Regions from separate parts of the Homo sapiens genome. Here region 1 is linked to region 2. The links come from fine-mapping of genetic effects on gene expression. A gene starts in region 2. The other region holds a variant in brackets. All regions are shown on one strand. Distances are between the middles of the regions. Region 1 has its middle 19 kb from the start of HAX1. Region 2 holds the start of RAB13 (RAB13, member RAS oncogene family).

Region 1 (5,372 bases), 310 kb after region 2:
GTTTCCTATTCAGATCTCAGTTAGTCTCTTTAGGATTGGGAGGATCTGGAAGAAAAAGATGTATATATATATACACATATATATATTTATATATATGTATATGTATATGTATTTTTATATATATGTATTTATGTATAAATATATATATATATATATATTTTTTTTTTGAGATGGAGCCTCGCTCTGTCTCCCAAGCTGGAGTGCAATGGCGCGATCTCCACTCACTGCAGCCTCCAACTCTTGGGTTCAAGTGATTTTCCTGCCTCAGCCTCCCAAAGTGCTGGGATTACAAGCATGAGACACCGCCCCCAGCCCTGGCTATGTTAATAGAGATTCTTTATGGATGTAGATTTTCCCCACAAAGAACAGCTTTGCAGGGGCATTTTAAAATATGACAAAGAAACATGTTTTGGGGTAAAATATTTTGATTTTCTTCTTTGTCTCGTAATGTTATACCAGAGTCAGGTTGGAAAGTAAATCATGATATATAGGGTTAAATAAAACCTATCTGATGAGAATTTATGATTTGTAGGTCATGACTCCCCAGATCCCTTAGATAGGAATTTGGGCAAGATAAAAAAAATTAGAGTTTAGTCCTCAACTCCTTCATATACGTTACAGAGAAACTTGTGTCTAGATTCATAAGGGGTCACATGCAAGAATATTTATCACAGCATTATTTGTGGAAGCTCAATGTTAGAACTCAGTTTTGGGTGACTTTCATTAGCAAAGTAGAAAGGTTAAATATAAGCCTGGTGCAGTGGCTCACGCCTGTAATCCCAGCACTTTGGGAGGCTAAGGAGAGCAGATCACCTGAGGTCCGGAGTTCGAGACCAGCCTGGTCAACACGGTGAAACCCTGTCCCTACTAAAAATACAAAAATTAGCTGGGCATGGTGGCAGGCGCCTGTAGTCCCAGCTACTTGGGAGGCTGAGGCAAGAGAATCGCTAGAACCTGGGAGATGGAGGTTGCAGTGAGCTGAGATCACGCCATTGCACTCCAGCCTGGGCAACAGAGCGAGACTCCATCTCAAAAAAAAAGAAAGAAAGAAAGAAAAAGAAAGGTTAAATATGGGAGTTGCATAGTATAGAATGCTACTCAGCAGATATACAAAATATTCAAAAGACAACATGGAGAGATCTTAAAAATAGTAATGAGTGAAAAAACAAAACCATATTGTTTGCACAGTAACACTCATGTCAATTTAAAACTACACCAAGGAACGTGCGCGGGGTTCATGCCTGTAATCCCAGCACTTTGGGAGGCCGAGGCAGCAGATCACCTGAGGTCCGGAGTTTGAGACCAGCCTGGCCAACATGGTGAAACCCTATCTCTACTAAAAATACAAAATTACCTGGGCATGGTGGCAGGCACCTGTAATCCTAGCTACTTGGGAGGCTGAGGCAGGAGAATCGCTTGAACCTTGAAGGAAGAGGTTGCGGTGAGCCGAGATCACACCATTGCACTCCAGCCTGGACAACACAGCGAGACTGTCTCAAAAAAAATAAAAATAAAAATAAGATACATTAAAATAAATAAATAAATAAAAACTACACCAAGGAACTTCTGGCTATAGCAGTGTAAAGGGATCTGTGAATCTTCACCAAAAAAACTATGAAATTAAATAAAATTGCCCCAAACAATGATTTCAAGTCTCTGGAAACTGAGCAAGGCAGAAAACAAATTGAGGAGCTTTTATTCTTGAAAAACTGCTACAGCTTCAAGCAAAAGCAATGTGAGTTTGCAGCCTTCTTGCCTGAGGCTGCTCCCATCCAACTTCCTTGGTGGCTGGGAACTGTAGTTTTACCAGTATGGAACTGGCTGTGAAAATCAGCAATGTTTGCTGTCACAGTGGGTAGACTGAAATTGTAGGAGTTAGTTAGGTGGAGGCGGACAAAAGCCTACAATGTTCTCAGCTGAATGATATGAAGTTGGTAGGAAATAAACAGGCAAAAAACCCTCTAGCTGTACTAACTCAAAGTAGCACTCCTAGTTGTGTTCAGTGGTGGAAAAGCCAGAAATTTAGCTGGAAAATAGGAAACTACAAAAGGGCTGAGATAAGCTCTCCCACATCCCTGGCTCACTGGGAAACTATCATATGCATGGAGGATAGCTCAGAGAGCTCCCTGAAAAATAAAAGACAAGGAAGACTTGAACACTGCTGCACATTTTAATACACTTCTCATCCTTCAAACAGATATATTGGCAGAAGTGGATGCTATATGGGCTTGAGGTGTTGGAACACAATGCTTATTCTAATCATTGGCTGAACACTGTGCTATGTAAGCATAGGGGTGATACTGCTGCGGGATAATTAAGGAATCAGAGAGACCGAGGGATTGAGGAGGAGTTATTTAATTATTTAGGTTCACTGACCCAGTTGGATTAACATCCAAAGGACTGAGCCTGGAACAAAGAGTCAAGCTACCTTTTAAGCATTTCGTGGGGTGGGGGGAGATCTGTGCGGGGGGAAGCGTATTATAGAAGCGAGAGACAAAGACAGTTATTCAGTT[A/G]AGGCATGCATTACATTATTTCTTACTGTTCAAGGAACAACATGTTTTACGACTTGAGATTATCTGTCTAGTGACCTTGCAGCTGCACAGCTAGAGAAACAGAGTCTTCACAATGCCTGGTAAATGGAGAGATAAGGCTCACTAGCCACAGAGAGAAAAACAGGCAGTTAATTTTAAAGGACTCCAGCCCTTTCTGTTCCTCAAGGGGGAATTGGGTTTTCTTACATACAACTGAGTTTTTGCTTACACAGTCTTTAATTTTTTTTTTTTTTTTGAGACAGAGTCTCACTCTGTTGCCCAAGCTGGAGGGCAGTGGCGCCATCTTGGCTCACTGCAAGCCCCGCTTCCCAGGTTCACGCCATTCTCCTGCCTCAGCCTCCCGAGTAGCTGGGACTACAGGTGCCCGCCACCATGCCTGGCTAATTTTTTTGTATTTTTAGTAGAGATGGAGTTTCACCGTGTTAGCCAGGCTGGTCTCAAACTCCTGACCTTGTGATCCACCCACCTCAGCCTCCCAAAGTGCTGAGATTACAGGCATGAGCCACTGCGACCGGCCTACAGTCTTTAATTTCTTTTAATTCCTGTTCTAATCCTTGAGGGAACATTTTTTTTTTTTTGAGACGGAGTCTAACTCTGTCGCCCAGGCTGGAGTGCAATGGCTCGATCTTGGCTCACTGAAACCTCCACTTCCCAGGATCAAGCAATTCTCCTACCTCAGCTTCCCGAGTAGCTGAGAGTATAGCTGGGTGCCACCATGCCCGGCTAAATTTTGTATTTTTAGTAGAGATGGGGTATCGCCATGTTTGCCAGGATGGCCTCAAACTCCTGACCTCAGGTGATCCATCCACCTTAGCCTCCCAAAGTGCTGGGATTACAGACATGAGCCACTGCACCTGGCTGGAAAAATTTATTATTATTATTATTTGAGATAGGGGTCTCACTCTGTCACCCTGGCTGAAGTATAGTGGCATGATCTCGGTTCACTGCAACCTCTGCCTCCCAGTCGCAAGCAATCTTCCTACTTCAGCTCATGAGTAGCTGGGACCACAGGTACATGCCACCACTACCTGCTAAGTTTTTGTATTTTTAGTAGAGATGGGGTCTTGGTATGTTGCCCAGGCTGGTCTCAAACTCCTGAGCTCAAGCCGCTTTGGCCTCCCAAAAGTGCTGGGATTAAAGGTGAGCCACCATGCCTGACCCCTGTGGGAAAATTTTAAAAACAAGAATAAATGGCCGGGCATGGTGGCTCATGCCTGTAATCCCAGCACTTTCGGAGGCCGAGGTGGGAAGATCACCTGAGGTCAGGAGTTGAAGACCAGCCTGACCAACATGGAGAAACCCTGTCTCTACTAAAAATACAGAATTAGCCAGGCATAGTAGTGCATGCCTGTAATCCCAGCTACTCACTACTCAGGAGGCTGAGGCAGGAGAATCACTTGACCCCTGGAGGCAGAGGTTGCAGTGAGCCAAGATCATGCCATTGCACTCCAGCCTGGACAACAAAAGCAAAACTCCATCTCAAACAAAACAAAACAAAACAAAACAAAACAAAACAAAACAAACAAACAAACAAAAAAAACGAGAATAAAAACTGAGCAGACACATTAGCAGCTGCACACTGTGGAATGATAGACTCTACAGTTTAACTCCAGACAAATGACACACACACACACATCAGCATCACCAGCATCACCACCATTCAGAAAAATACAATAGAATCCAGACTCTACGGTTTAACTCCAAATTACACACACACACACACACACACACACACACACCCCATCAGCATCACCAGCATCACCACCTTTCGGAAAAATACAACAGAATCCAGAGTTATTACAGTCTATTATCTAAAATGACCAGTTTTTTAGAGGAGGAAGAGGATAAAATGATCAGTTTTCAAGAAAAAAATTATGACACATGCGAAGAAACCTAAAAAACAGTAACTCATATCCTGATTTTAAAAGTCAATGAAAACTAGCCGGGTGCAGTGGCTCACGCCTGTAATCCCAGCACTTTGAGAGGCCGAGGCGGGTGGATCACCTGAGGTCAGGTGTTTGAGACCAGCCTGGCCAACATGATGAAACCCTGTCACTACTAAAAATACAAAAATTAGTCAGGCATGGTGGTGGGCGCCTATAATCCTAGCTACTGGGGAGGCTGAGGCAGGAGAATTGCTTGAACCTGGGAGGCGGAGGTTGCAGTGAGCTGAGATCATTCCACTGCACTCCAGCCTGGGTGACAGAGCAACACTCTGTCTCCAAAAAAAAAAACAATAAAAAACAAAATAAAAACTGAGTCCAGGCACAGTAGCTCACACCTGTAATCCCAGCACTTTGGGAGGCCGAGGCTGGCAGATCACGAGCTCAGGAGATCAAGACCATCCTGGCTAACAAAAAAATTAGCCGGGCATTGTGGCGGGCGCCTGTAGTCCCAGCTACTTGGGAGGCTGAGGCAGGAGAATGGTGTGAACCTGGGAAGCGGGGCTTGCAGTGAGCCGAGATGGCACCACTGCACTCCAGCCTGGGTGATAGAGTGAGACTCTGTCTCAAAAAAAAAAAAAATAAATAAAAATAAAAACTGACTCTGAGTAGGCCCAGAAGTTGAATTTGGCAGACAAAGACTTTAAAGCACATATTATAAATATGTTCAAGGAATTAAATAAAAATGTTTAACAATGACTCAATAAATATGGAATCTCAACAGAGAAATAGAAGCTATAAAAAAAGAATCAAACAGAAATTCTAGAATTATAAAGTAAAATAACTGAAATGAAAATTTTACTAAATGAACCCAATAGCAGATTTAAGATAGCAGAGGAAAAATTTAATAAACTTGAAGATAGATCAATAATAATAA
Region 2 (5,372 bases):
AGAGATGGTAGTGGCCCAAGAAACAAGATGTCTTTGCTTATTCATTGAATGTTTGCTATGTGTCAAGCACTGTGTATGTATCATTTTATCTAATCCTTACTCTTTCCTTGTAAGACATGTATTATTGTCTCTATTTTAAAAATGAGGAAACACGCCAGGTGCCGTGGCTTGCGTCTATAATCCCAACACTTTGGGAGGCTGAGGCGGGTGGATCACCTGAGGTCAGGAGTTCAAGACCAGCCTGGCCAACATGGTGAAACCTCGTCTCTACTAAAAATACAAAAATTAGCCCGGCCTAGTGGCGGGCGCCTGTAATCCCAGCTACTTGGGAGGCTGAGGTCGGAGAATCACTTGAACCCAGGAGGCGGAGGTTAAAGTGAGCCTAGATTGTGCCATTGCACTCCAGCCTGGGTGACAAGAGCAAAACTCTGTCTCAAAAAAAAAAAAAAAAAAAAAAGAGGAAACAGATTTGGATAGGCTGAATAATTAATGAAGGTCAGGCAGGAGATAACTAAAAGAACCAGATTTGCGCACCAGTCTGCTCTTATATGTCATAGCATAATGCCTCCACTAAGCTTCATACCACTTAAACACCTTCAGGGTCTATATTTGGCTCTCTGGGCTCACCATATTTTGGAGAAAACACTAGACTTAGAGTCAAGTCTTAATTCTGCCTTTGCCATTTAACTGCTCACAGCCTGTTTCCATGTTATGACTGAACAGTTGTTTGTTGTCAAATTAAGAGGATGCTCTGCAGCCAGAGGAGGCAAGAGTTACAAAAGAGTTGGAACTAGTTGGGAGAGCAGGAAGAGAGATGGAAGGACAGCTGAGTGCATCCGGAGAAATGCCAGAAGTGCTCCTTCTAGCACTTCTAGAAGGAGCAATGGGGAAAGGAAGAGAAATGAAACAAAATAGAAGGAAAAACGTGTAGGAGGTAAATGGGGAAGTCTGGCGAGGCATCCCAGAGGACTGACTTACCAGACTTGTAGTTTGATCTTCTTCCCCTCTATATCCACAGTGCGGATCTTGAAATCAATTCCTAGGGGTGGAAGGTATGCACTGAAGTTGAGACATGCATGCACACATGTAAAACTGTGTGATGGAAGGGACAGGAACGGAGCAGTGCTGGCACCAGAAATTCTGCAGGGGAGGCACTTGGGGAACAATCTTGTTGGAAATGCCAAGCTAGGAGAATTTTCCCAAAGCTGTATTTGTATAGCAAGAATACTATTTTTACGTACATTTTATGGATTTTGGGAGGGAAAAGGTGACGAAAATTCTGCATGGAGGCTTAAAATCCTTAGGCTGCCTCTTGGGTCCATTCAGTTATACCAGCTGACAACTCTCTGAATTCAGTCTCTGTCTCCCCCCAGATATTACTTTCACATTCCTCTTCTCTGTTTTCTTAGAGCCCTCTACTCTTGGTATCCCACCTACCCTCCTAGTAGAGAGTAAGGAAAAAAGTAGCTGAAGCCAGTCTATGTGAATTAACTAGTGGGCCAAACTTGGCACTAGGAAAGTCTGAGGCTAAACAGGATTACTTTTGAGACAATTAGGAAAGAGGGGCATTTTTCCTTTTCCTTTGTAACCAGAATTGTCGTGAGACTCTTCCTGTCTATTTCCCAAGCCAGAGGAGATGAAGAAAGAAGAGAAGGGAGGAGGGGAGACAATGTTCTTCTTAGTAGAAACTTGGGCACCTCCCCCAAGCCTGCTGGGGGCCCCTGGGAGGAGGATGAGTCACCAGGCTGACTCAGAGACCCCAAAAGTCCCCTCATTTCCACGTTCCTCACCAAGCTGGCTGCATATTCATGATCACAGTCCTTGGGCCACCCTCCAGCACACCCAGCCACCTTGTTCCACCCTTCCCAAACCCTTGTTCAGCTGAGGTGCAGGGAGACTGGGGCAGGGAACCTGGGAAGTAGATGGTGAGGTGGGGACACAGTGGGAGAGTTTGAAGCTCAGCAAGACAGAAAGAGGCTAGCATCGGATCGGGAGAAAAAGATGTGGCGGACAGGGATACAGGAAACATGGAGATAGGATCGAGAGAGTTCTAGGTGGTGGGGGTAGGGGAAGAGGGGAACAGAGAAAAATAGAGAAGAGTTCTTGTGGATTTGGGGAGACTAAGGCGATGGTACCAAGAAAATGAGGAGCTGGCAGCAGTTGAAGAGTTACCTGAAGGCCTCAGAGAGGTGAGAGGTTTGGTTACTATACAGAGACATGCACGGGGGAAGGGTCAGAGCCAGGGGTTGAGGGACTAGAATTTAGGAGCCTTACTCTAAGGGGACTGAAAAGTGGGGTCACTAGTAATCCGGGAGCCGGAGAAGGAGGTCACAGGAGAGTCGGGGTCTGGGACATGGCCAGCGGGCTCACCGATGGTGGAGATGTAAGTGTTGTTGAAGTTGTCCTCTGCAAAGCGAATGATCAGACAAGTCTTGCCCACCCCCGAGTCCCCGATCAGCAGCAACTTGAAGAGGTGGTCGTAGGCTTTGGCCATGGCGGACACCGGGGGAGCCGGGGGAGGGGTGGGGAGCGCCCGGCACTGGTAGGCGGGACTGGACGGTTGGCAAACAGAGCGGCACGGAGCCCAGGCCAGGAAGAAGTTTTCCTCCCTCTCCGCCCAGGCTCCGGGAAAGAGGAGAGGCGGCACCCCTCCGGGCTCCACCCCCTGCCCGCCCACCCTTTTGAGCAGGCCAAGGCTGCCAGCCCGGCCTCTGTTCTCTCGGTTTTCCCTTCCTAGCTTAGGCCGGCCTGTCTCTCTCGCTATTTTCCACAGCCTTTCGGTAATTGTAGCTCCCCTCTTAGGACCTTACTCTTCCATTCTGAGGCCAGAGAGGCTGGGGTGAAGGGAAGTAGAGGTTTAACCACGACGACCAGAAATTTTAGAAGAGAAATTTTAGAGGGATTAGGGGAAGAGAACCAAGAGTTTTGGGAATAAGGGTGAAGGTAGGGAGAGCACTAGAAATTGAAAAAAAAAAATGGGGCTGAGTTTTGGAGATGCTATTCAACGAAGCTAGAAGATGAGTTATCATCGGTTTCTGGGGCTGAGTAAAAGGCAGTCCTAGAATTTTACTGTTAGTTGTCCAAGCCCTTAGTTCTATGGGTCCCAATTCACTTTGAAAAAAGCGGGATGCGCAGAAGTAGGTTATTTGTTGAGTCAGTCTGCCCCCTGGTGGAACAGGGTGAAAACGTAAATTAGTTATACAGAATCGGCCCCACCACCCCAACACACACAGCCTACCTAGACACATCCTGGGGCTTCAGTTGGAACGATCTCTCTTATGGGGACCCATGTGTGATTTCTCTGACCAAATAGCTTAGGAAAACAGAGATTTGAACTAAAAATGTCATTCTTTACGTGAATCTTTTAATATGGCCCACTTAAGGTGCAGTACTCCTGAAATCTCACTCAATAGGCCATGAATGTGTAGCCTTGGTAACCAGGAAGCTGAAATATGAACAGCACGGGTATAAAGAAACAAGTTTGCCGGGCGCGGTGGCTCACGCCTGTAATCCCAGCACTTTGGGAGGCCGAGGCGGGCGGATCACGAGGTCAGGAGATCGAGACCATCCTGGCTAACATGGTGAAACCCCATCTCTACTAAAAATACACACACACACACAAAATTAGCCGGGCGTGGTGGCAGGCGACTGTAGTCCTAGCCACTTGGGAGGCTGAGGCAGGAGAATGGCGTGAACCCGGGAGGCAGAGCTTGCAGTGAGCCGAGATTGCGCCACTGCACTCCAGCTTGGGCGACAGAGCCAGACTCCGTCTCAAAAAAAAAAAAAAAAGAAAGAAAGAAAGAGAGTAAAAGAGAAACAAGTTTATCTCTGCCTTTAGAAAAAAATTATTCTTGCTATATGTGTGCTGGGGGTGGAAAAAAATACGAAACACGAAAGAAAGAAAATATTATCTAAGACCTGTTGCGGTGGCTCACACTTGTAATCCCAGCACTTTGGGAGGCCAACGTGAGAGGATCCCTTAAGCCCAGGAGTTCAAGACCAGCTTGGGCAACATAGTGAGACTGCTTCGACAAAAAAAAAAAAAAAAAAAAAAAAAAATTAGCCATACATGGTGGTGTGGCCTGTAGTCCCAGCCGCAGCTACTTGGGGGACAGAAGTGGGCAGAACACTTGAGCCCAAGAGTCCAAGGCTGTAGTGAGCCACGATTATGATGCCACTGCTCTCCAGCCTCGGTGATAGAGTAAGATCCTGTTTCAAAAAAATTTTTTATTTATTTTTTAATTAATTAATTAATTTTTTTGAGACAGAGTCTTGCTCTGTCGCCAGGCTGGAGTGCAGTGGCGCAATCTCGGCTCACTGCAACCTCCGCCTCCCGAATTCAAGCGATTCTTGTGCCTCAGCCTCTGGAGTACCTGTAATCCTCTGGGATTACAGGTGCCCGACACCACGCCCAGCTAATTTTTGTATTTTTAGTAGAGATGGGGTTTCACCATGTTGGCCAGATGGTCTCGATCTCTTGACCTTCTGATCCGCCCGCCTCGGCCTCCCAAAGTGCTGGGATTACAGTCGTGAGCCACCACGCCTGGCCCTATTTTTTTTTTTTTTTTGAGACGGAGTCTTGCTCTGTCGACCTAGGCTGGGGTGCAGTGGCGCGATCTCGGTTCACTGCAAGCTCCGCCTCCTGGGTTCACGCCATTCTCCCGCCTCAGCCTCCTGAGTAGCTGGGACTACAGGCGCCCGCCACCACCCGGCTAATTTTTTGTATTTTAGGGAGAGACGGGGTTTCACCGTGTTAGCCAGGATGGTTTTGATCTCCTGACCTCGTGATCTGCCCGCCTTGGCCTCCCAAAGTGCTGGGTTTACAGGCGTAAGCCACCGCGCCCGGCCTATTTTTATTTTTATTTTTTTAATTTTTATTGTTTATTTTGAGGTGGAGTTTCGCTCTTGTTGCGTAGGCTGGGGTGCAATGGTGTGATCTGGGCTAACCGCAGCTTCCGCCTCCCTGGTTCAAGCGATTCTCCTGCCTCAGCCTCGCGAGTAGCTGAAATTACAGACACCCGCACTACCCCCTGCTAATTTTGTATTTTTAGTAGAGACGAGCTTTCTCCATGTTGGTCAGGCTGCTCTCGAACTCCCGACCTCAGGTGATCCACCCACCTCTGCCTCCCAAAGGCCTGGGATTACAGGCGTGAGCCACTGCGCCCAACCTTTGTTTTTACTTTTATTTTATTTTTTGAGACAAAGTTTTGCTCGTCACCCAGGCAGAAGTGCAATGGCTCAATCTCTGGTCACTGCAACCTCCGCCTCTTGGGTTCAAGCGATTCTCCAGCCTCAGCTTCCCGAGTAGCTGGGATTACAGGCGCCTGCCACGACGCCCAGCTAAATTTTTTTTTTTTTTTTTTTTTTTTAGT

Evidence for each region. PIP is the estimated chance that this variant, and not a neighbour inherited with it, causes the effect. A credible set is the group of variants that fine-mapping cannot tell apart.
Region 1: its variant is the best candidate, but not a certain one, in a credible set for the expression of RAB13 in blood mononuclear cells (TOPMed, PIP 0.64).

What each region holds. Positions count from the first base shown.
Region 1 is chr1:154,289,243-154,294,614 of GRCh38, forward strand. No RefSeq gene overlaps it. Among named protein-coding and RNA genes, the nearest start is that of HAX1, 19 kb to the left of the region's middle. The variant A/G (reference allele first, on the strand shown) is at 2,514.
Region 2 is chr1:153,983,743-153,989,114 of GRCh38, forward strand. RAB13 (RAB13, member RAS oncogene family) reads right to left here and starts at 2,597. Exons shown (of 8, transcript NM_002870.5): 1 at 2,371-2,597; 2 at 979-1,039. The coding sequence starts at 2,494. RefSeq lists enhancers at 1,656-1,885, 2,199-2,700 and a silencer at 2,512-2,681.